Homo sapiens: one gene and its partners. The protein of the gene in region 3 interacts with the protein of the main gene of each other region in a biochemical or structural test. Each region holds a gene or a part of one and is shown on either strand. Other genes may lie near its edges. The genes, in order: PIDD1, PRKCZ, NCL, LTF, NPM1, ERG and GZF1.

The links.
Region 1: the proteins of NCL (region 3) and PIDD1 form a complex in vitro, tested with the Homo sapiens proteins (one study listed by BioGRID).
Region 2: of the proteins of NCL (region 3) and PRKCZ, one has a biochemical effect on the other in vitro, tested with the Homo sapiens proteins (one study listed by BioGRID).
Region 4: the proteins of NCL (region 3) and LTF interact in a biophysical measurement, tested with the Homo sapiens proteins (one study listed by IntAct).
Region 5: the proteins of NCL (region 3) and NPM1 form a complex in vitro, tested with the Homo sapiens proteins (one study listed by BioGRID).
Region 6: the proteins of NCL (region 3) and ERG form a complex in vitro, tested with the Homo sapiens proteins (one large-scale study listed by BioGRID).
Region 7: the proteins of NCL (region 3) and GZF1 form a complex in vitro, tested with the Homo sapiens proteins (one study listed by BioGRID).

Annotation. Positions count from the first base shown.
Region 1 is NC_000011.10:798,684-802,231, reverse strand, and holds the end of PIDD1 (p53-induced death domain-containing protein 1), read left to right. Parts: coding exon 1-37; intron 38-141; coding exon 142-267; intron 268-607; coding exon 608-787; intron 788-866; coding exon 867-1,014; intron 1,015-1,111; coding exon 1,112-1,247; coding exon of another isoform or gene 1,248-1,319; coding exon 1,320-1,470; intron 1,471-1,565; coding exon 1,566-1,689; intron 1,690-1,780; coding exon 1,781-1,899; intron 1,900-1,987; coding exon 1,988-2,101; intron 2,102-2,217; coding exon 2,218-2,417; intron 2,418-2,666; coding exon 2,667-2,925; 3' UTR 2,926-3,048; downstream 3,049-3,548. UniProt on the Homo sapiens protein: Component of the DNA damage/stress response pathway that functions downstream of p53/TP53 and can either promote cell survival or apoptosis.
Region 2 is NC_000001.11:2,147,911-2,151,410, reverse strand, and holds part of PRKCZ (protein kinase C zeta type), read right to left. Parts: intron 2,540-3,500; coding exon 2,487-2,539; intron 622-2,486; coding exon 433-621; intron 1-432. UniProt on the Homo sapiens protein: Calcium- and diacylglycerol-independent serine/threonine-protein kinase that functions in phosphatidylinositol 3-kinase (PI3K) pathway and mitogen-activated protein (MAP) kinase cascade, and is involved in NF-kappa-B activation, mitogenic signaling, cell proliferation, cell polarity, inflammatory response and maintenance of long-term potentiation (LTP).
Region 3 is NC_000002.12:231,457,985-231,461,484, forward strand, and holds part of NCL (nucleolin), read right to left. Parts: intron 2,883-3,500; coding exon 2,685-2,882; intron 2,581-2,684; coding exon 2,494-2,580; intron 2,459-2,493; exon of another isoform or gene 2,384-2,458; intron 2,310-2,383; coding exon 2,168-2,309; intron 1,142-2,167; coding exon 1,017-1,141; intron 406-1,016; coding exon 282-405; intron 1-281. UniProt on the Homo sapiens protein: Nucleolin is the major nucleolar protein of growing eukaryotic cells. It is found associated with intranucleolar chromatin and pre-ribosomal particles. It induces chromatin decondensation by binding to histone H1.
Region 4 is NC_000003.12:46,458,406-46,461,905, forward strand, and holds part of LTF (lactotransferrin isoform 1 preproprotein), read right to left. Parts: intron 1,415-3,500; coding exon 1,251-1,414; intron 1-1,250. UniProt on the Homo sapiens protein: Transferrins are iron binding transport proteins which can bind two Fe(3+) ions in association with the binding of an anion, usually bicarbonate. Lactoferricin binds to the bacterial surface and is crucial for the bactericidal functions.
Region 5 is NC_000005.10:171,397,849-171,401,348, reverse strand, and holds part of NPM1 (nucleophosmin), read right to left. Parts: intron 1,197-3,500; coding exon 1,139-1,196; intron 511-1,138; coding exon 424-510; intron 1-423. UniProt on the Homo sapiens protein: Involved in diverse cellular processes such as ribosome biogenesis, centrosome duplication, protein chaperoning, histone assembly, cell proliferation, and regulation of tumor suppressors p53/TP53 and ARF.
Region 6 is NC_000021.9:38,386,978-38,390,477, reverse strand, and holds part of ERG (transcriptional regulator ERG), read left to right. Parts: intron 1-3,500. UniProt on the Homo sapiens protein: Transcriptional regulator. May participate in transcriptional regulation through the recruitment of SETDB1 histone methyltransferase and subsequent modification of local chromatin structure.
Region 7 is NC_000020.11:23,365,182-23,368,681, reverse strand, and holds part of GZF1 (GDNF-inducible zinc finger protein 1), read right to left. Parts: coding exon 2,935-3,500; intron 1,680-2,934; coding exon 1,585-1,679; intron 1-1,584. UniProt on the Homo sapiens protein: Transcriptional repressor that binds the GZF1 responsive element (GRE) (consensus: 5'-TGCGCN[TG][CA]TATA-3'). May be regulating VSX2/HOX10 expression.

The DNA of each region.
Region 1 (3,548 bases), on a different chromosome or scaffold from region 3:
GCTGGAGCTGCAGCCCCATGGGGTGGCCTTCCAGCAGGCATGGACAGGGCGTGGCGGGGGCAGTGTGTGGGCCAGGGCATGGCAGGGGCAGTGTGCGGGCCCGGGCATGGCTCCAGTGCTCACACCATCCTTGTCTGGCAGGATGTGGGGCTGTGGCTGCTCTTCACCCCACCGCAGGCCCGGCGCTGCCGTGAAGTGGTGGTCAGGACCCGGAATGACAACAGCTGGGGTGACCTGGAGACCTACCTGGAGGAAGAGGCACCCCAGGTGAGGGCCACCCAGGCCTGCCGGTGGCGAGTGGAGAGCTGCTGCCCTGAGCCGTGCACCTCTGCCCAGAGCCTCACCCTGGCACCTTCCACCCTGCCCCGTCCCTCCTGGATCCTGCTTCCCTATGTCCCTGGCACCTTCCACCCCACCCCGTCCCTCCTGGATCCTGCTTCCCTGTGTCCCTGGCAACTTCCACCCCACCCCGTCCCTCCTGGATCCTGCTCCCTGTGTCCCTGGCACCTTCCACCCCGCCCCGTCTCTCCTGGATCCTGCTCCCTGTGTCCCTGACTGGCTGTGCCCTGACCCAGGCTCCTGTGACCTCCTCTCTCCCCCATCCCAGCGGCTCTGGGCTCACTGCCAGGTGCCCCACTTCTCCTGGTTCCTTGTGGTTTCCCGCCCTGTGTCCAATGCCTGCCTGGTGCCACCGGAGGGGACACTGCTGTGCTCCTCGGGTCATCCTGGGGTCAAAGTCATCTTCCCCCCTGGGGCCACTGAGGAGCCTCGTCGAGTCTCCATGCAGGTATGGCCAGGACAGCACTGAGGGTGGCAGGCCGCGCCTCAGCCCACAGGCAGGTGCTCAGGGGGCCTGTCTGCCCCAGGTGGTGCGCATGGCTGGCCGAGAGCTGCAGGCCCTCCTGGGAGAACCAGAGGCTGCAGTGAGCCCCCTGCTGTGCCTGTCACAGAGCGGTCCCCCCAGCTTCCTCCAACCGGTCACCGTGCAGCTGCCTCTGCCCTCTGGCATCACAGGTGAGAGGCAGCCATGGGGCATACCTGGACCTGTGGCCATAGGGTGGAGGGGGTCTCCGGCCAGGAGGCCTCAGCTCGCTGCCCCTCCCATCCCCAGGCCTCAGTCTGGACCGCTCCCGCCTGCACCTGTTGTACTGGGCCCCTCCTGCAGCCACCTGGGATGACATCACAGCTCAGGTGGTCCTGGAGCTCACCCACCTGTACGCACGCTTCCAGGTCACACACTTCTCCTGGTCAGTGCCCCCCAGCTTTCTCAGCCCCCCTCCCCCAGTCTGTACAGCCCTCCTCACCCCCAGCTCTCCCAGGTACTGGCTCTGGTACACCACCAAGAACTGTGTGGGAGGCCTGGCTCGGAAGGCCTGGGAGCGGCTGCGGCTGCACCGTGTGAACCTCATCGCTCTGCAGCGGCGCCGGGACCCTGAGCAGGTCCTGCTGCAGTGCCTGCCCCGAAACAAGGTGGGGGCACGGGCCGGAGGGCAGCAGGGTGGTGACCAGAGGGCTGGGGTGGGGTGCAGAGCTTTGGGTCCTGAGCTGCACGGGCTTCCCCGCAGGTGGACGCCACCCTTCGGCGGCTGCTGGAGCGGTACCGGGGCCCCGAGCCCTCTGACACGGTGGAGATGTTCGAGGGCGAAGAGTTCTTTGCGGCCTTCGAGCGCGGCATCGACGTGGATGCTGGTAGGGATGCTGGTGGATGCTCCCTGCCCTGGAGGGGGAGCCTTACCGTCCTCCCCGAGCCCTCCTTGCTCAGCCCACCCCTGTCCCCTAGACCGCCCTGACTGTGTGGAGGGCAGAATCTGCTTTGTCTTCTACTCGCACCTGAAGAATGTGAAGGAGGTATACGTGACCACCACTCTGGACCGGGAGGCTCAGGCTGTGCGGGGCCAGGTGGGCGAGGGGAGTGGGTGAGGGGAGAGGCCCCCCAGGCCGCTTGGGCAGAGGACCGAACTCCGAACCCCATTCGATGCCCCTTCAGGTGTCCTTCTACCGTGGCGCGGTGCCTGTGCGGGTGCCCGAGGAGGCTGAGGCTGCCCGGCAGAGGAAGGGCGCAGACGCCCTGTGGATGGCCACTCTGCCCATCAAGCTGCCGGTGGGACTGAGGGACAGCAGAGGGGCGGGGCAGGACCGAGGCCCAGGGGTGACCAGGGTGACATGGTGGAGTTGGGGGTGGAGCCCAGGGCTTAATGCACTTTTTCCTTCCAACAGAGACTTCGAGGGTCCGAGGGGCCACGGCGGGGGGCTGGCCTCTCCTTGGCACCCTTGAATCTGGGAGATGCCGAGACCGGCTTTCTGACGCAGAGCAACCTGCTGAGTGTGGCTGGGCGTCTGGGTCTGGACTGGCCAGCCGTGGCCCTGCACCTGGGGGTGTCCTACCGGGAGGTGCAGCGCATCCGGCACGAGTTCCGGTGAGGCTCCCACTGCCCGCTGGCTGCCAGCCCCAGGGCTGAGCCCTGGCTGCCTGGAGGGCCCACCTGATTCTGACAGAAGTTTCTTCCAGGGGAGGTGGGGGAAGGGCAAACACCAGGCTGGAAAGGAAAGGTCTGGCCGCACCTGGCCCCAGGAGCCGGGAACTCCCCCACACTCCGAGGCAGAGTGTGGTGGGGGGTCCTGGGCAGGTGGACAGGACCCCTCTGTCGCCCATCCTCTGCCTGCAGGGATGATCTGGATGAGCAGATCCGTCACATGCTCTTCTCCTGGGCTGAGCGCCAGGCTGGGCAGCCAGGGGCTGTGGGGCTCCTGGTGCAGGCCCTGGAGCAGAGTGACCGGCAGGACGTGGCTGAAGAGGTGCGCGCAGTCTTGGAGCTCGGCCGCCGCAAGTACCAGGACAGCATCCGACGCATGGGCTTGGCCCCCAAGGACCCCGCTCTGCCTGGCTCCTCGGCTCCACAGCCCCCAGAGCCTGCCCAGGCCTAGGCCCCACAGACTTTTAGGCTGGCCCAGATATTCCCCAGTGGATGGGCAGAGCCCCCACCTTCAAGTCTCTCCAGTGTGTGGGGACGGGTCCCTGTGAGCAACAAAACTGCACTGTTTCTTTCACCTCAGAGCTTGATTTATTTGTTGGATGGAGAAGCCGTTGGAGGGCGGAGGGTGGTGGGGTAGAGGCCTGGCCCCTGCGGGGAGGGAGGCCTGTGTGCACAGGTGCCCCACATCCTGGTCCTGTCCTCTCCCACTGTGCCTGGGGCCTCCTGTGGGTCCTCATCTTCCTGGGAGGGAGGAGCTGTGCTACAAAGTAACCCACATGGGCTACTTTTTTTTTTTTTTTAAATGGAGTTTCTGTCACCCAGGCTGGAGTGCAGTGGCATGATCTCAGCTCACTGCAACCTCTGCCTCCCAGGTTCAAGCGATTCTGCGTCACCCTCTCAAGTAGCTGGGACTAGGGCACTTGCCACCACGCTGGCTAATTTTTGTATTTTTAGTAGACGGGGTTTCACCATGTTGGCCAGGCTGGTCTCGAACTCCTGACCTTAAGTGATCCGCCTGCCTCGGCCTCCAAAAGTGCTGGGATTGCAGGTGTGAGCCACTGCGCCCAGCCCCAA
Region 2 (3,500 bases), on a different chromosome or scaffold from region 3:
CGTATCAGTGGTTGGCCATACATGAGAAGGTTGCAGAGACCACGATACCCATCTTCACCTTTTCTAAGCTTAGACACGTGAGTGCTCTCGTGGTGGTCCCCTCACTGCCTGCAGTGTGCAGTGCACTAACAGCCGTACGGGCTTGCAGCCTGGGAGCAGGAGCTGCACTGTGCATCTTGGCTGTGGAGTTGGCTGTGCTGTTTGGGTTTGTGGAGTGCACACTGTGATGTTCACACAACAGTGCCATTACCTAACCAGGCACTTTCCAGAACACATCCTGGTCATTACACGATGCATGACTATTGATTTTGCACAAACTCCGTCAACGTGAGGCTAGGTCTCTCGTGCATGGATTAATTCCGCTAAAGCCCGGAGGAGGCCCCAGGGCAGCGCGTTCCCGGGCCCCCGGGCCCCATGAGAAGCGGCACCTACCTCGTCATCATGCACCAGCTCTTTCTTCACCACTTTCATGGCGTAAATTTGGTCATTCTTCTTCAACCGCACCAGGAGAACCTTGGCGTAGCTCCCGCGCCCGATGACTCTGATTAGGTCAAAGTCCTGCAGCCCAAGCCCCTGAGAGATTTTGATTCCATCCATCCCATCGATAACTGGCTTAAGGTCCTAGGGAGGGAGAACAAGACCCCAGAAAGTGAGAGGGGGGTTCCCGGGAGACTCAGAGGACCACGCATCACTCATGCGGTCCCAACAGAGACCTGCTCCTCAGAGCCCAGGGCCTCATGATTCGAGTCTCAGTTCTGCGTCCCACATATCCCACCCCCAAACTCCCATCTAAACTGGGGCATGAAAGGTAAGAATTTAAGGCTGTGTGCTTCTGAGGAAGGTGCTAGAAAGCTAGAAGCTGTTCGTTCCACAGACCATGGCTCTGGTCACAGCTGCAGGTGGGAGGGACCCCCAGGCCCTCAGCCCTATCAGTGGGGCTGAAGAGGTGGCCACAGGGACATGTGGCCCAGGGCCTGGGCCCATCCTTCCTGATCAGTGCCCTCCCTCAGGGGAAGGAAGGTAAAGCGAATGCAGCTAATGCCTGCCAAGAGCTCCCAAACCGGCAGGCACACATTATTAGAAATAATTATTAGAAATACCCAGGAGAAAGGCGCTCCGAGGAAGAACAGAAGCCTCTGCCTCCCGCAAGCTACACCTGGCAAGGAGGTCGGGGTGGAGGAGGCGGTTCCTTGGGAGGTGCTGTTCTGTGCGGCAAAATGGATTCTGCTTTTTTTTTTTTTTTTTTTTTGAGACGGAGTCTGGCTCTGTCGCCCAGGCTGGAGTGCAGTGGCACGATCTCGACTCACTACAAGCTCCACCTCCCGGGTTCACGCCATTCTCCTGCCTCAGCCTCCCCAGTAGCTGGGACTACAGGCGCCCGCCACCACGCCCAGCTTTTTTTTTTTTTGTATTTTTAGTAGAGACGGGGTTTCACCGTGTTAGCCAGGATGGTCTCCATCTCCTGACCTCGTGATCTGCCCGCCTCAGCTTCCCAAAGTGCTGGGATTACAGGCGTGAGCCACCGCGCCCAGCCGGATTCTGCTTTTTTTGAGACAGACTCTTCCTCTGTCGCCCAGGCTGGAGTGCAGTGGTGCGATCTCAGCTCACTGCAGCCTCCACCTCCCAGGCTCAGGCGATCCTCCCACCTCAGCCTCCCAAGCAGCTAGGACCACAGGCCCGTGCCACCATGCCCAGCTAATTATTTTGTATTTATTTTTGTAGGAACAGGGTCTCGCTATGCTGCCCAGGCTGTTCTCGAGCTCCTGGACTCAAGCGATGTGCGCAGCCTCCCAAAATGCTGGGATTGGAGGTGTGAGTCGCCGTGCTCAGCCTCAGATTCTGCTTTCTAAGTGCCCCGGCCTCCCTCCAGACACAGGATGGCCAGGAAGGAGCACGAGTTGTGAGGGTGACACTTGTTGGTGCTCTGGAAAGGAGTGGGCTTCGCTAGTGCAGTCCTTCCCTGGGTTTTACGAGCAGAGGCTGAGAACGCAGCAAGCTCTTCTGTTCCCTTCTCAGGGTTTATGGTGCAGAGCTGGCCACAGACGTGAGGCTCAGTTGAGCCTCTTGGCTCAAGTTGGGGAAGGACATGAAAGGGCTTCAGAGGGTTTGCCAGGATGGCCAAATGAGGCAACACAATTCGGAAGGCATGGTGCAGACACAACTTGATAAAAATTGCAGCTCAAAAGCCAGCCCCTGGGCCACTGTACCACCTGAATGGAGAGGATGTGGGGCACGGCTTCCCCCGCAGGGTGTGGTCCCCAGACCACCTGCGGGGACAGCTGCCTGCAGGTATTCATCAAGGACATGCCTGAAGTAAGACCCAAGAATAAGGACTTCCTTCTAGACATCCACACCCGTGAAGATTAGTTAGCAACACCCCGGACCATGTCTATTTCACATCTAGATTTCCGTGACTACCCCAGAGACAGGCTCACAGACTTTCCAGAGGACGTCGGAAATGGCAGCGAGCTGCTCCACACACTCACCTCCGAGTCGTCTTTAATGCTGTCATGCTTCCGGGATGAGGAAATGTAAGCAACTGGTGAGAGAGGGAGGAAGGAAGGGGCGTTACGGTGTGGTCAGGAACGCACTGGGAACACAGCGACCCTGTGGACCTTGCTCCTCTGCAGGGTGACGGTGAAGGGTGAATCCACACAGCAGCCATGTCTGATTCTAATTTAGAGTCTTCTGAAAATGCAGTTTCCTGGGCCCCACTCACACCTGCCGACTCTGACCATGGGACCTGGGGATGTACATTCGTGACATACGTCCCCAGGGGTCCATCTGCAAATAATTCGTCACCGGATTTTGGTGTCTAGTGAATGGGTGGGTAGGGGCAGGAGTGGATGTCTGGTGGATGGATGGAGGATGACTAGATGGGGGATGAATGGAGGCCTGGATAGAAGACGGATAGATGGAGAGGTCAGTGCACAATGGATGGATAGATGGAGAGGTCAGTGGACAATAGATGGATGGATAGATGGAGAGGTTAGTGGACAATAGATGGATGGATAGACGGAGAGGTCAGTGGACAATAGGTGGATAGATGGAGAGGTCAGTGGACAGTGGATGGACAGATGGAGAGGTCAGTGGACAATAGATGGATGGATAGATGGAGAGGTCAGTGGACAATAGATGGATAGATGGAGAGGTCAGTGGACAACAGATAGATGGATAGACGGAGAGGTCAGTGGACAACAGACGGAAAGATGGAGAGGTCAGTGGACAACAGACAGATGGGTGGACAGGTCAGTGGACAACAGACAGATGGATAGATGGAGACGTCAGTGGACAATAGATGGATGGATAGATGGAGAGGTCAGTAGACAATAGATGGATGGATAGATGGAGAGGTCAGTGGACAGTGGATGGATAGATGGAGAGGTCAGTGGACAATAGATGGATGGATAGATGGAGAGGTCAGTGGACAATAGATGGATAGATGGAGAGGTCAGTGGACAATAGATAGATGGATAGACGGAGAGGTCAGTGGACAACAG
Region 3 (3,500 bases):
TTCATAGTAACCTCACCTCACTGAAAGAACTGCTACTACTTACAAAGTATTTATTGTAAGATAGGCACATTTCTTGCTTCTTTGTAAGTATTAGCTTGTCTTTTAAAATCACCCTATGAGTACATTATCCCCATGGTACAGATGGGTTACTGAGGCACAAACTTACAGGTTAAACTGTCCAAGATTACACGCCTAAGGAAATCAAACCAATATTTCTTTTATAAAGCAGGAAAGTGCATTAATGTTAATAAAACCCTTACATTTCAATAGACAGAACATACCCTTTACTTTTCCCATCCTTGCTGACTAATCTGATCTCCGCAGCATCTTCAAACACTTCTTTCAATTCATCCTGAGTGACTTTGTAAGGGAGATTTTTAGCCAAAAGTGTTCTCGCATCTCGCTCTAGATTAAAAAAACAAAAATGAGCTCTGTGGCCTGAAAAACCAAAGGTGGGGGGCAACAACAAAAAGAGGGGAAAAACACACATAGCTCTATTCAACAAATAATTTGAGATCCTATAATGTACAAGGCTCGGTGCTAAATATGGAGATATAGCAGTGTCAACACACAAGTGGTCCCTCCATGTTGTCACAGCTGATGTCAAACTCTCTGTTAGGTACACTGGAGTTCAACCTAGAGTAGACGCGCATAACAAAAAAAGTGAATGTACCAATTCAAAACATTACAACTGTATATAGGGAGTAATTAGGGACCTAATCTAGTTTCAGTGAAGAAAGATCCCTTTACGTTAATTTAGGTGCATCTAATAATTCTTGTTCTGTATAAAAGTGCTCTTGCTTGCCTAACTCAGGAATTTACACTATAACACTGACAAGCAGTGCCAAGTACTCTTGTAAACACTGTAGCTCATTTAATTCCCACATTAAGAGGAAACCAAAGGAAAAAAATGATTTAAAAAAATAAGAGGAAACCAAGGGAAATGGGTTACAAAGCATTTTCCCTAGCAGTCTAGCTCCTGAGTTCATTGCATAATCTCATAAAGCCTTACATACCTTTCTTACTGTCTTTTCCTTTTGGTTTCTCTAGTTTAATTTCATTGCCAAAGACTTTCAAACCAGTGAGTTCCAACGCTTTCTCCAGGTCTTCAGCAGATTCAAAATCCACATAACCAAATTTCCTTCAAGGTGGAGAGGAGGGCAAAATTACAACAGGTGAAAACACAAATCAAAATCCACAATATGTATTCTAGACAAATGTGATGGTGCAAACAAAGATCACATTTTAAAAAGCACCCCTAGTATTAGCAAAACAAAGTCAAGGCTCTGCAAACTGCAGCTACAGAACAAGGTCTCAGCATGAAGATATGACATGCACATTCACGTTTGAGGTCTTCATCATGGAGCTAAATTGCTTATAAGAATTCACAGTAGCAGCTGACAAAAGAACACCTATAAGCACTAATACAGGAGAATCCTGTCTGGATAAAAGTATTCACTATGATGACTAGACAGGTCTAATAGTTTCAGGTACTTCCAAGAAAATAAACATTATTTTAAATTGAGACGGTGTCTCAATCTGTTGCCCAGGCTGGAGTACAGTGGCGCGAACTTGGCTCACTGCAACCTCTGCCTCCCAGGTTCAAGCGATTCTCCCACCTAACACCAAATTATTAAAACTTACTGGCAGGGTGGCTCACGCCTGTAATCCCAGCACTTCGAGAGGCCGAGGTGGGTGGATCACTTGAGGTCAGGAGTTCAAAACCAGCCTGACCAACATGGTGAAATGCCATCTCAACTAAAAATACAAAAATTAGCCAGGCATGGTGAAGTGCACCCGTAATCCCAGCTACTTGGGAGGCTTAGGCAGGAGAATCGCTTGAACCCGGGAGGCAGAGGTTGCAGTGAGCCAAGATTGCGCCACTGTACTCCAGCCTGAGCAAAAGCCAGCGTCCGTCTCAATACATAACAAAAACAACAAAAAAACTTACTAAAAATTATTCTGTGCTATACCAAGTTACGACTGATTATGGAAATTGCAACTTAGGGGATCTACAGTTTAATTCTAACTTAGTTCACTAATGCTAATCCTTGAAGATGTTTACAGTATTCATGTTTAACAGTAGCAGGCTAAAGTAACTGTGCTAACAGGGGAAGGAAAAGCATTAACAGACCCACGTGTATGTAACGTGCAGTGAAGCACTTACCTAGTCATACCAATTCTGACATCCACAACAGCAAGATCATTTTTAGCAAAAACATCGCTGATACCAGTTTTTAATTCAGGAGCAGATTTGTTAAAGTTTAGGTTTCCAACAAAGAGATTGAAAGCCGTAGTCGGTTCTGTGCCTGCACAAAAAAAGCTCAACTCAGTCTACTTGTAGTGTGGTAAAAAGTTAGTTTCCAAAGCAAAATTTCTATACACAGCACATCAGCACACTACAATGTAACATCAGGTTTCAGTATTAAGTCCCTTTGTTATTCATCATTTGTGCTGTTTATCTCCCCCATATCCCCTAATTCTGCAAGTTACCTTCCACTTTCTGTTTCTTGGCTTCAGGAGCTGCTTTCTGTTTGGCCATTTCCTTCTTTCGTTTTCCAGGTGCTTCTTTGACAGGCTCTGGACAAGATGTCAAACAATGTATCACACATCAGTAGCCACAAACACTTAAGTGCCTCCTTTAAACATAACTCATGTCGTATGTCAGAATCTAATTTAAGTACCTTCCTCCTCCTCTTCTTCCTCCTCCTCATCATCTTCATCATCATCATCTTCATCATCTTCGTCGTCGTCGTCATCCTCGTCCTCATCATCCTCTTCTTCATCTTCATCCTCAGCCACGTTCTTGGCTTTCACAGGAACAACTTTTGCAGCTTTCTTTCCTTTGGCTGGTGTAGTCTCCATAGCTTCTTCTTCAGAGTCTGAAAGAGAAGTCACCTAAAAATTGCAGCAATCTCCCAAAACCAACATCGGTTTTCAAATCTAATGTAAAGAAAATGCAATCCTGTCACCATGTTTAGTTAACAGTCATGGCAAGAATAGATCACTTGGGGCCGGGCGCAGTGGCTCACGCCTGTAATCCTAGCACTTTGGGAGACCAAGGTGGGTGGATCACCTGAGGTCAAAAGTTCGAGACCAGCCTGGCCAACATGGTGAAATGTCGTCTCTACTAAAAATACAAAAATTAGTAGGGTGTGGTGGTGGGCACCTGTAATCCCAGCTACTCGGGAGGCTGAGGCAGAACTGCTTGAACCCAGGAGATGGAGGCTGCAGTGAGCCGAGATAGCGCGCCATTGCACTCCAGCCTGGGAAACAGCAAAAGCTCCATCTCAAAAAAATTTAAAAAAAAAAAAAATCACTTAGAAACAAAATCCTACATTATAAAAAACACTAATAGAATGTGCTATTGAAATTTTCTCAAGAGGCACAAAAATCATTCATGGGTAATTAAGTCTAGCACACCACAACAACCCAGAGAATTCCCACAAGGATTCTAATCTCATCTCCAGGTTGTCGTGGAAGGAATATGTTGATCCCAG
Region 4 (3,500 bases), on a different chromosome or scaffold from region 3:
GATCAGACGAGATCAGACGCGTTCAGCGTGGTATGGCCTTGGACAGGATCTTATTTTAAAAGGCAGATTTTGTGGCTTCTTTCACATATATTCAGATTGAGTAGGTTAGAATAGAGCCTAGGAATCTGCATTTTAAACAAGCAAGAGATGCTGGTGCTGGTTTTTTGTTTTTGTTTTTTGTTTTTTGAGATGGAGTCTCGCTCTTGTCGCCCAGGCTGGAGTGCAATAGCATGATCTTGGCTCACTGCAACCTCCCCCTCCCGGGTTCAAGTGATTCTCCTGCCTCAGCCTTGTAAGTAGCTGGGAATACAGGCATGTGCCACCACACCCAGCTAATTTTTGTATTTTTAGTAGAGGCAGGGTTTCACCATGTTGGCCATCCTGGTTTTGAACTACTGACCTCAGGTGATCCTCCCACCTCGGCCTCCAAAGTGCTGAAATTACGGGCGTGAGCCACCGCGCCCAGCCACTGGTACTGTTTGTATGCAGGTAATAGTTGTAAAATAATAGCCTAAAACATTGATTAAACTAGATTTTTCCCTAAGTGCTATTCTAATAACTCCATTGTATTTATAAGATAATCCTATGAAGTTGCCTCGGGAACTTTTATGCAAATTATTCACTCTGCTGGAGTTGAGTACACATGATTATGGCACATGGCAGGTACACAGAATATATTTGTTGAATGAATGAGTAAAAATCATTTCAGTAGATCTTACATCTCAAAAAATAAAAGGAATCAGAAATCATATACAAGTCATGATACCCTTTTCTCTCTCTCTGAAAGTGTCTTGGACAAAAGTCTTTCTAACACCCAGCACCCTGGCAGGCCCTGCCCCAGCCATGTGATGTGGCAACGGTGACCAGGACAAGCTTCTTTCTCACAGGGTTTAGAGGTCATGACTCTTTTGGAGGATTTCCCTCTCTGAGTAACTTTGCTTTTTGCTGATCCTATGTATTCATCAAATACAACTGATTACATTTCATTTTGGAACAGTTGTTATTAATGAATAACAGTTGTTATTATAGTTTATGTGGAGGCTCCAGGTTCCTCACACATGGTCTCTTGACTTAAGCTCCTTCCTTTCTGCTCTGAAAATAGCACAGTTCCCTGTGAGAGAGGACGGCTCCCCACTTCGTTGCCCAACAGGTGAAGCAGAGGAAGTAAGGAGAGCTCGTGTTCTATCTTTTTCCATTTCTCTCTCCCTTCCATTCAGCTTGGTCCCAACCAACACCCGGCATTGACTCACCGCAATGGCCTGGATACACTGGATGGGGGAGTCTCTCTTTATGCAGCTGACAGGAGGGCCACGCACTTTTCTCATATTCCTTTGCCATTGGAAGCATTTTGTGGCCTCGGGTTGGGATACGGCGCACCACTGAACACTCCTCCTACGGCCAGCCAGACACAGTCCTGGGAGAGAGGGGCCAAGGAGTAAGGATTCAACCACTGACTGAGGGCGTGACCACCGCACCCTCTGATGGAGTTTTCCAGACTCCTCCCTCTCTCTCGGCTGCCCTCCTTCCCTCTCCATTTCATGGCTATGTCCAGCCATTCTCCACAAGTGGAGGCATCTTGCTGGACTAATAGGATCTCTGCATTGGCTAGAGGTCTGTGGTTCTCAATAAATTAAAGGAGAAAGTCCCTCTAGATTATTTTCATTCCTATGACTTTGACATGTTTCCTACCACTTAAAAAATGATGGTGATCCCCCAGATCAGTTATGGAATTCTTCTACCAGCTTTGCCCACTTTGAACCTGGAAGGTAGGCAGGAAAGGAGTCATTGCTCCTGTTTTACTGATGTGGAAATTGGCTCCTAAGGAGGCTGAGTGACTCGCCACTCAGCAGTGCAGAGCCCAGCTGAGAATCCACGTCTCTCTAGATTGTTTTGTGCATAAATCTCTTCCCAGGGAATGCCAAGAGAACAGGGGAAAATATACCTGAGTCGGTTGGTAGCTGAGGTAAATGGTAAGTCAGTGTCAATGGGGACAAATCAGTTGGTTGGTGTGCCTGAGCTACCACCATTCACTCTGCACAGAAAGACTGGTGCTCCTGTTGAGCCTGCTTTTTTTGCTCAAATACTGGTTCTTCTTTTGAGCCTGCTTTTGTTGCTCAAATCCATGTAATTAGGGAGGAAGATGCATTGAATTTACTCACCTGGTTGCCTGATAAAAGGCATCCACAAAAAACCTGCAATGAACATCATACTAAAATGGTGAAAGACTGACTGCTTTCCACCTAAGATCAGGAATGATGAGAGAGTGTCCACACTCAACTCTTCTATTCAACAGTACTAGAGATTCTAGTCACAGCAATAAGGCAAGAAAAGAAATGAGACACCCATATTGGAAAGAAAGAAGTAAAACTGACTTTACTTTCAGATAACATGATCTTCTATGTAGAAAATACTGAAGAATCTACAAAGTACTATTAGAATTAATAAACAAGTACAGCCAGGCCACAGGATACAAGATCAATATACAAAAATTGATCATATTTTTGCATACAGCACAGAACAATCTAAAAATGAAATTAAGAACATAATGCTAGATAGTATAACATCAAAAAGGATTTAGTACATGACGGGTAAATGATAAGAACAGACATTTTACCAAAGAAGATATATGAATGGACAATAAGCACATGAAAAGTGCTCAATATCATTAGTCAAAAATGCAAATTGAAAATGCAACGAAATATCATTTCACAGCCACTGAACAGGTTATAATAGCTAAAACAGACAATGACACATATCGATGAGGATGTGGAGAAGTGGAAACCCTCATACATTGCTGAGAATGTAAAATGACCAGCCACTTTGTAAAACAGGTTGGCAGCTTCTCAAAATGTGAAGCACAGAGTTCCAATAGGACCCAACAATTGCACTTCTAGGCATATAGCCAGAAGAAATATTATAAGAACCTATCATACATAAATGCTTGTGCATGAATATTCATAGCAGTGTTATTTAGAATAGTAGAAAACTGGAAACAACCTAAATGTCCAATAACTGGTGAATGTACATCCATTCAATGGAATATTACTCAGCAGTGAAAAGAACTACTGGCATGCCCCACAACATGAACGAGCCTCAGTTATGCTCAGTGAAGGAAGCCAGACACAAGAGACCACATGCTGTATGATTCCATTTGAATGAAATGTCCAGAAAAGGCAAATTTATGGAGACAAGAAAATAGATTAGTGGTTGTCTGATGCTGGGGTAGAAATGAGGATTAACTATAAACAGGCATGAGGGACCTTTACTGGGGGGGATAAAAGTGTTCTAAAACAGATTTATGGTGATAGTTGCACACTCGGTAAGGTTACTGAAACTCATTGAATTGTACGCAAATAGGTGATTTTTTATGATATGGAAAATGTACCTCAGTAAAGCTGTTACCAAAAACTAAAACAAAAAACAAACAAACAAAAAAACAAAATAAACACACAGTTGTAAAAGCCCTCTGCCCTTTGGATGTGCTATGGGGTAGAATGTTC
Region 5 (3,500 bases), on a different chromosome or scaffold from region 3:
GGCGGAGTCTCGCTCTTTTGCCCAAGCTGGAGTGCAGTGGTGCAATCTCACTGCACTCCACCTCCCAGGTTCAAGCAATTCTCCTGTCTCCACCTCCTGAGTAGGTGGAATTACAGGCACATACCACCATGCCTGGCTAATTTTTGTGTTTTTAGTAAAGACAGGGTTTCACGATGTTGGCCGGGCTAGTCTCAAACTCCTGACCTCAGGTGATCCCACCCACCTTGGCCTCCCTCCCAAAGTGCTGGGATTACAGGAGTGAGCCACTGAGCCTGGCTGCAGCAAGCTGATTTTAACTTTTAAACAGCAATTACAGGGGTTCTATAAAGGCCTATCAAATTTCAGACACACTAGATTCTTCCACAGTAGAATCTTTTTCCCCAACTAGATCAATGAGACCCACGTGTAAATGTAGCCACTTACTTTTGATCTTGGTGTTGATGATGGTTTTGAGTCTTTTCCATTCTGATTTGACTTTTGTGCATTTTTGGCTGGAGTATCTCGTATAGACTGCAATTAGAAATTTATCTTAATCACTGTCCCTGACCCCAACAACAGTGCAAACAAAGCTGTCCAAGCCATGTAAGACAAGCAGCAACCACAGGCTTGGCGTGGTGGCTCATGCCTGTAATCCCAGGACTTTGGGAGGCCGAGGCAGGTGGATCACGAGGTCAGGAGTTCGAGACCAGCCTGGCCGACATGGTGGTCTACTAAAAATGCAAAAATTAGCTGGGTGTGGTGGCATGAGTCTGTAATTCCAGCTACTCAGGAGGCTGAGGCAGGAGAATCGCTTCAACCCGGGAGGCAGAAGTTGCAGTGAGCTGAGATCGCGCCACTGTACTCCAGCCCGGGTGACATTGAGACTCCGTCTCAAAAAAAAAAAAAAAAGGAAGGAAAAAGCAGCAACCACTTGGACAAAAGGTTACACAAGACTAACAAACTGGGTGGAGGGCCACATGGATAAAGAAAACAGACCATTCCCCACTCTTAAGTTTTCTGTAATCCTCCTCAGGACTAATTTTCAGTATGAGATGATCTCCCACACCAGCTTCCCTTAACTACAAAACAAGCAAATAGCACTAAAAAATCACCATTTCTATTGTTAGTTTAACAACCTTGTAGCATTGTATCTACTCACTTTCTTCACTGGCGCTTTTTCTTCAGCTTCCTCATCATCAAAATCATCATCATCATCACTACAAATGAAATGTCAAGACATTAAGCACTTTCAAAATTTGGGAGTAGACACAAGAATTGAAAGCAGGACCTTGAAGTGATTATTTGTGCACCCATGTTTATCGAAGCATTGTTCACAACAGCCAAGAGGTGAAAGCAACCCAAGTGTTAAATGACTAAATGAAAATGTATATGTACACACAATGAAAATCCTCTTGCATGCTACATGACTGAACCTTGAACAAAGTGAAATAAGCCAGCCACAAAAGAACAAACACTGTATGATTCTATTCATTAAGTATCTAAAAGTAGTCAAACTCAAAGAAATAGAAGGTATAATTGTGATCGCTAGGGGCTGGGAAATGAAGTTGCTCAATGAGTAGTTTTGCATAAATACACACTATACCACTGTATAATGTATGTATATTTAAGTAATGTATAGTTCTATTAAACTGTACACTCAGAGTGAATTTGTGTTAAAAAAAAAAATTAAAGACCTAAATAGAAACATTCCATGTTCAGATATTGCCAAGATGGAAACACTCCCCGAATATACAGGTTAAATACAATCGTTAGAAGACTCCCCAAGCTGGTTTCTCTGTAGAAACAGATCCTAAAATTTATAAACAAACCCAAGAACTGGCACAGTGTCTCACACCTATAATCCTAACACTTTGGGAGGCTGAGGTGGGAGGATCGTTTTAGTTCAAGACCAGCCTAGGCAACATAATGAGAACCCTCTCTACAAAAAAAATTTTTAATTAGCAGGCGTGGTGGTGTGCGCCTGTAGTCCTAGCTATTTGAAAAGCTAAGGCAGGAGGATCTGCTTGAGACAGTGAACTGTAACTGTGTAATTCTGCCACTGCACTCCAGCCTGGGTGACAGAGCAAGACCCTATCTCAAAAAACAAAAACAAAAAAGACACTTAAGGGACCCAAAGAGGCCAAATGCAATCTGGAAAGGAAGAAAGCTAGAAAACTCACACTTGATTTCAAAAAATCAGCTATAAGACCTACAAAGGGGCCAAGGCACCGTGGCTCACGCTTGTAATCCCGGCACTTTTTAGGAGGCCGAGACGGCCAGATCACCTGAGGTCAGGAGTTTGAGACCAGCCTGGCTAATGGGGAAACCCAGTCTCTACTAAAAATACAAAAATTAGCCGGGCATGGTGGCGGGCGCCTGTAATCCCAGCTACTCAGGAAGCTGAAGCAGGAGGAACCAGGAGGCGGAGGTTGCAGTGAGCCAAGATCACGCCACTGTGCTACAGCCTGGGTGACAGTGAGACTCATTTCAAAAAAATAAATAAATAAAAACCACAGAGGAACAGTGTTGTACTGTTCTTACATGTTAAGGATAGACACATCAACAGAACAGTCCAGAAACAGTGATTTTTTTGTTTTTTGAGGCGGAGTCTCGCTCTGTCGCCAGGCTGGAGTGCAGTGGTGCAATCTCAGATCACTGCAACCTCTGCCTCCCAGGTTCAAGCGAATTCTCCAGCCTCAGCCTCCTGAGTAGCTGGGACTACAGGCACACGCTACCATGCCCAGCTAAAATTTGTATTTTTAGTAGAGACAGGGTTTCACCAAATTGGCCAGGATAGTCTCAATCTCCTGGTCATGATCCGCCTGCCTCAGCCTCTCAAAGTGCCGGGATTACAGGTGTGAGCCACCACACCCAGCCATAAGTGACTCTTTTAAAGGTTGCCAAGATCATTCAATGGGGAAAAAATAGTTTTTGAACAAATCATGTTGGGGCAACTGCTAATCTACATCCAAAGTCTATATTTAGACCCCTCCATTCACACCATACACATAAGTTTACTCAAAATGGAACAAAGCCCTAAATATAAAGGACAAAACTCAGAATTAAGGGGGCAAATTTTCACAACTTTGAATTTAGCAATGATTTCTTAGGATTGACACCAAAGGCACAAGCAACAAAAGAAATCGGACGTCATAAAAATTAAAAACTTGTTCAAAGGCCACCATCATGAAAGTTAAGTAACAATTCACGGAATGGTGGAAGATAATCTGTAAATCTTGTGTCTGATAAGGGACTTGTTTGCAGAATACATAAAGAATTCTTGGGCCCAGTGCAGTGGCTCACGCCTGTAATCCCAGCACTTGTGGGAGGCCGAGGCGGGCCTGACCTCAGGAGTTCAAGACCAGCCTGGCCAACATGGCGAAACCCGGTCTCTATTTAAAATACAGAAAATTAGCCGGGCGTGGTGGGGGGGGTGCCTGTAATCCCAACTACTTGGGAGAGGCAGAAGAATTGCTTGAACAAGGGAGGAGGAGGTTGCAGTGAGCCAAGATCACATCACT
Region 6 (3,500 bases), on a different chromosome or scaffold from region 3:
TATAACTTGATTACCTCATTTAGGATCTTATCTCCAAAAAAGGTCACATTCTTAGATACTGCGGGTTAAGATTTCAACATAGGGAATTGAGGGAACACAATTCAACCCATTATACAAGCAGATAAAATAACTAGTATTTTTTAAAAGAGAGCCTTGATACAACCACAAGACTTCAAATTCAGGCTCATCTTCGATGGTCTGTTTCTGAACTTCGATGCTAGAAGAAAGTGCAGATTCTTAATTAGCCCATTTGTAACCAGTGCATTGCCAAGGTTTGTCACCTGTCCTAGTGTTTCAGTGCCAACCACATAGTTTTATTTGTTTGTATTCAGATCAGAACCAGCTGTGCTGGCACCAGCTTCAGAAATTCATAGCCTATGCTGCATATTCCCAACTGCAAATTCAAATGCCAAGATGTTACAGGCATATTGCAAGCACAAGATGGAATGTGTATTTCCTAAACGTTGAGGCCAAAATAAGGTTCGAAATGGAATAATTAAGATTTAATCAGTGTACATCCCTGCAAGAGAATCTACACATTGAAAACACGAAATGTTATCATTATTGAACATCTGTATTTTTGAAGTTAAATTTTGGTTAATGTTAATGAATTCAATGAATTTTTTTTACACAGCTGAAAATCTAAAGAAAACTAGTTAGCCTGGGGCCTAGACTAGGTGCTCAATAATTATTTGTTGCATACATGAATGCCAAGGATAATGAGATATAGTCCTTTAGCTCAGGGTGCTTTTGGTCCGTGGAGAGATGGACACAGGTAGTTACAACATTGTCCCAAACACAGAGCCACAGGCCCTTTTTGCTCATGCTGGCTTTCATCTAGTAGCCCAGGCTCCTGAGGCTGTGGTCTCTTCTCAGCCTTCTGCTCAGCTTTTCATTTGCAACTCTGCCATATAACCATTCAAATAAAAATAATGACTATGTTTTGAGATGATTATTATCAGTCATGCTTCAGGAAGACTGATCTGGCAGCAATGTTCAGGATAGATTAGAAAAAAGAAAATGACGGAAGCTGAAACACTCTGGGAATGTTAATACAATCATGTGAAATAACAATCAAACAGCTCCCATCCCGCAGAATGCCCCCCATAGAATGTCTGTGGTCCCTTCTGTGTCTCATAACAGCCCTGGGAGGTTACTATCTCCATCCTACAGAAAAGGAATTAGAAGTCCAGAGAAGTTAAGTAACTTTTCCTGTGTCACACAGCCAATGATAAGGGAGGTCAGGTTAGAAACCTGACTCTGTCTGCAAAGTCTACTTTTGTTTTCTTGCCCTACTCTGCCACTGACTAAGTATGAAGGGAAGAGGAGGTCTTACAAAATGCGGACTGTGAGAATAGAAAGCAAGGATTTCCTTTCAGGGTCATAACTGCTTAGGTGCAGGCGATGAATCTGAGGTCAGGAAGGAAGAGGAGGAAAGAGTCAAGCTGCACCAAAGAAGACCAAACTGGCCTTTGCACTCACACATTGGCCAAATGAAACATATATGTCCATGACCACGTTGTCACAGCCCAAAGGTACTGCTTGGCTTGTTTGTAGAATAGGGCCTGAGTCACTTGCTCCTAAGCAAAGTGCCAGCTTTCACAAGGGAACACTGCATATGCCCTGGGCCCAGCAGCCCGGGGATGCCCTTTGTAGATAGAGGGACCTGAGCTCAGAGCAAGGAGACCGGAAACTCATCACAGGCCTGGGGAAGGAGGACTGTGCTTCATACCATTAAGACTGTTCTTAATGGGCCTGGAGAAAATGGCAACATCCCATCTTTGATTTGCAGGCAAGTGACTTTAAGATAAAGATTTATTTCATTTAGTTTCTGATGAATTTGACTTTCTCTCCATCTATCTTTAGGTTTGTGTCTGTTGTGCTCATGTGAACTTTTCCCCTGAAACCAGAATGTCTTTTATCTTTGTATTAATGACAATGCTTCTTCCTGTTTGATTCTATTTTTCTATTCTCTGATAAATAAATCTTTCATCACTTAAAAATTGCTGTCTTTGCTCTTCATACAATACAAATTCCTTTTCATCATTTTAAGTGGAAAGATTGCATCATATAGTATGAATGCACAGGATGATGTCAGCATCCCAACATCTCTATCCCAAATATTCACTTGATGTGTACTTTGGACATCACTTTTCCTGCTGAGAACAGTGTGTCCCTGCATTCTGATATCATGGATCGGTTATAAGCAACACAGCTCCTTTACATCCCATCAGAGCAGCTGAGAATCTATCTAACATGGTTCCTCTAATGAAAGAGCTTTGGTGGGTTATGTTCAGAGGCTTCCTTGATGCTAACTGGATACTCTTCAATGGTGCACATGAAAATACATCCTGCCTCTTGCAGAACGACAGACCAGGCTAGGGATGTTTTCCCATTTGTTAGGAGGTGGCAGTGTGCAGTCTTCCAGTGGGAGTCCCCCAGGGAGGGGACAACATGGAAAGGACCTGAGGAGGCTACAGAGGTGTGCATAAACCAGGCCTGAAAGCAAGTTTGCGCAGTGATTAAGCATGGCAGCCTAGAGTCTGGATTTCAACCCTTGCCAACGCTAAGCAAAATAAGTCAGTCTACCTCTCTAAGCTCCAATTTCGTCACTTCTCCAATGGACTAATCACATGATTCCTGTGGGGATTAAATAAACCAATACATGTAAAGCGTTTAGAATGGTGCATGGCACACAGTAAGCTTTCAGAGGATATCAGTCAGCCCAAGAATAGCACCGTTTCAAGCTTCTTCATGGTTCAATAGGCCAATTGAACAGTATTTCTCTTTCTTTAGGCATTTCCTGGCTATAGGAGAGGAGTGTTATCTTTCCTTAAACTCTGATTTTCAGCCCAAAGAAATTCTGACAAGACCATTCAAGTACTGAGTTCATCCTTACCATGATCTTGCAAGATAGTACTATTACCATCACCCCCACTTTACAGATGACGATACTGAGGCAGAGAGAGCTGCGAGAGTTGCCAAACGTCCCACAAAGGGCAGAGGCAGGATTCAGCTGAAGCAGTGGCAACTCCAAAGTTGGTGCTCCCTACCACCATGCTTTCCTGCCCCTCCAGTAAGTGGTGCCTGAGCCTCACTGAGCCTCGGGGCAGAGACTTCCATTCAGGACACACCTGCTGGACACACCTGCTGCCTTGCAGAGGGTCCAGGCCATGCACACGGGATCTTCTGCACCACCCCTGGCTTCTAGAGAAAGTGGCCCCAAACCACTGCCACATGGTACTGGTGGGGCCCCTCACGGCTGTATTTACTGCCCTTGTTCATCAGCTGACGGCTGCAGGGCTTTGCACCAGGATGCTGTTTCCACCAGACACAGCTGCTGACTCACTCTGCAGCTCTCTGCTTTGCTCTGTGGTTTGTAAACCGTTTAGTTTTTTTTTCCCCCTTTTTTGCTCAGTCTGTACCCCTTTGCTACCCTGTTTCTCTCCCTTTCTTTTAACAATATTAGGAGATTACTTTCCTCTGTAAAATTAAAGGAG
Region 7 (3,500 bases), on a different chromosome or scaffold from region 3:
CCACGTGAACTCAAAAGTGCCTTGGTAGGCAGCATGTTACATTTTCCAGTAAAAACTATCATAAAATATATATTCATGTAAGATGCTTGCTACTTACTGAAAGTTGGTGTAAAATATCCTTGGAAATTGCAAGAAAAATTCCATTTGACTAGAATCAAAGAGGTATTGTTTGTTCAGCTGGCTCACATTTTAGAAATTTACTCATTCCAAACAAGAAAATAATTTCACAACTTCTGTTTGGAGGAACTGCTGGATTATTTTCAAAGGAACACTTCTATGGATCTTTATCAGAATAAAGGGGAAGTTGACAATGGATATATATCACTATTCTAGAGTAGCAACTCCAATCAACTTGATTGAATTGTAGGACAAGAGTTTTAAATATCTCACTTTTTGTAGTTTAATCCCACAAATCAGACTTACCAAATTATTAGCTGTGCCCGATTTCACAGACATCAAAATAAAAATAGTGACTTTAATAAAATCTTACCATGTTAATATTATCAAAGGACCAATTCTAACTTAATCCTTCATTATAACCTGACCTTGTCCCCAATCCCAAGCTTTCTTTAAACAATTCTACTCATTCTGTAGTCATAATGCATGTCATTAAATGCTAATTTCATGACATTAAATGAGATTTTCATTCAATGACATGAATTATGACTTCAGAATGAGCAGAACTGGTGTCTAATCACACAGATGTGGTGTCTAATGAGTCAGAGACATGTCATCTCTGTCTCACATGCATTTGAACTTGAGGCTTGTAAGCCAGTGTTTACAGGTAAGAATAAAAAATGCAAGCAAAGAAGAAACTGAGAAGAATTGGAACACTTCAGTGCTGTATGCTTCTGTATCTTCCACAAGATTCTAAACCTCAGGGTTACTGTGCTGAAGCAGAATAAAGCCAACTTAAGTTTTATCTGTCACATAATTAATAAATCATAAAGACTTTGGAAAACAGAAATGAGATAATCCTACTACCTTAATGTATCATATAACAACTTATTTTCTTCTGGTCTTTTATGTGCAGGTTTTCAATACAATTGAGGTTAACTGTATGCTTAATTGTGCATTTTAAAGTTGAACATCCAAGCACAGACTTTTTCATGTCATTCAGAGCCCTTACTCTGAATAGCCGGGTCATAAGCCAGGGTATAGATTTACCAGAGTTGACTAGAGCACTTCCTTGTAGTTGGACAATCAGGCTGTTTCCCATTCTTAGTTAAAAATAGCAAGAAGGGGGATAATAGCATACAGCTCTTCCCATATGTTGGACAATTTCTTTAGGACAGAGTCTTAGAAAAAAAAATTTCGGTTACAAAAGAACTATTTTATATCTCTTGATACCTAAGACCTGCATGCCAGATCCTATGGCCTGGTGGTATAAAAGCCACAGCCATGTGCACACTAGCAACAAGGCAATGGGTGTATGTTTATTCATTTTGCTCACTTACTAGATGGAAAAGCTATATCATGGCTTTAACCTGCACCACCTTGGTAGATGCCAACTTCAAAATTAATCAATTGCATTTCCTTCTAGATCTAGGAAAGACATTCAATCACAACAGCATGAGTATTTACCTGTGTGACACCTTTTATGATAAATCAGCATGTGGTTCTGAGTGAATCTTGCACCACATTCATCACAGACAAAAGGTTTTTCCCCTGTATGAATTCTGAAAGTACAACATTCAGATGATAACTTAGGATGTATTTCAAAGCTCACTTTGCAATACAATTTCCACTCTATCCTGCAAAAATCGTTTACTCCAAGAGACCTAATGAGAATGACTGTAGTGACAGGTCAAGAGCCCATAATCTCCATCCCAAAATAAACTGAGTTTCTGCACAAGGTCAATGGATCCACACATTTTCCATAAATCACTGACTGGAATGTTCATCTACACCTGATCACAAGCCCTACTGCTGATGCTATAAGGCATGTGCAGGTAGAGACCAGGCCTTTGCAGATTTTTTTAAACACTAAAGACCACAATCTGATATTTGTAAAGCTGTCTCATACAGAATAATCAGCCACAAACACCTTAGGAACTACTGCTGATTAAGTGTCACATGATCAAAAATGTTACTCTCATTTCCTAATATGACATCACCAGTAGAGAAAGGAGAACTGTTCTCAAATTGCCGAAGGTGGCATTTTTAAAATGCATAAGCATTTTAATGTCACAACTAGTATGAAGTAGCAATCAAACATAATTTACTGAGCACTTCCTAAACCAAGTATTTTTAACTTATTATATAGAGTAAAAAATGAACACCATGCTGCTAACCCAAGACTGACCTAGGTTTGAGGGCAGATCTAGAAGAGAAGAGAAAACAACTGCTTGTTGGGATTTCAAGAATAAATATACTAAGAACTATAAGAAAACTTATTTAAAAACATCACCACACACCTGCAGCTCAGAAACATATTAAGAAACAGAAAGCACTGTCTGTCCTGATTCTGGAGTGCAGACTGCCTAGATGGCACTCCTTCCAAGCCTGAGAACCAAAAGACCAGAGACGAGTCCTAAAGCCTGAAATGGCATCTCACTGAGGTCTCTACTGAGACTGTGGGACCCGGATGGTCACAGAACCCCAAGATCTAAACGAAGAGTCAGGAAAGGAGAAATAAAGGTAACGAGGCCCAACTCTTCCTCCAGCACGGTGGGGCGAGCCCGCGGCCGCTGTCGCGGTCCCACCAGAGGGACGTCCCGGCCAGCAGGGGCGCCCCAGGGGTCTCAGAACAAGGGAGCAGAGCCATCACTCGCAGCCCCTGTACCTTGACAGAGAACTAAACGCTGTCTCGAAATAAGCCCCCAGGTTTGGAGCGGAGAAATTAAGCAGTGAGACATCAAATCCCAGGACGACCTCAGTGCTTGACACACCCTTCCAGTGCGCAGGGACCCCTCCGGACGGCTCCCCGCGTACCTCATGTGCGTCTTGAGCGCGGACGGCTGCGAGAACCTGGCGCCGCACTCGGTGCAGCCGTAGGGCCGGTCTCCCGTGTGTGTGCGCTCGTGCAGCCGCAGCGCTGTCTTGGAACTCAGGCCCTTGCCGCACTGGCCGCAGCGGTGCCGCTCGCCGCCGCCCTCATGCACCTGCAGCACGTGCCGCTTCACGTCCTTCTTGCGCTTGAACTTCTTCCCGCACAGCTCGCATGGGAAATGGCGCTCGCTGCTGTGCACGTGGCGCTGGTGGCTCTTCAGGTTGCAGCGGTTGGCGAAGGTCTGGCCGCAGGTGTCGCAGCGGTACACCACCTCGGTGGCCACGCCGTGGCGGTGCTTGCTGTGCTTCAGGAAGCTCTTCTCATACAGAAACGCCTTCTCGCAAATGCTGCACTTAAAGTTGCTCTTCTTCTTCTCCCCTTCTTCGTCCTCCTCCTCCTCCTCCTCTTCCTCCTCCGGCCCTGCTTTCTTTGACAATTCCTCCAACTCAGCACCTGCCTGGCAACCCTCATTTTTGGAAACCTGCTCCATCTCCGTGCCCACCCTGTC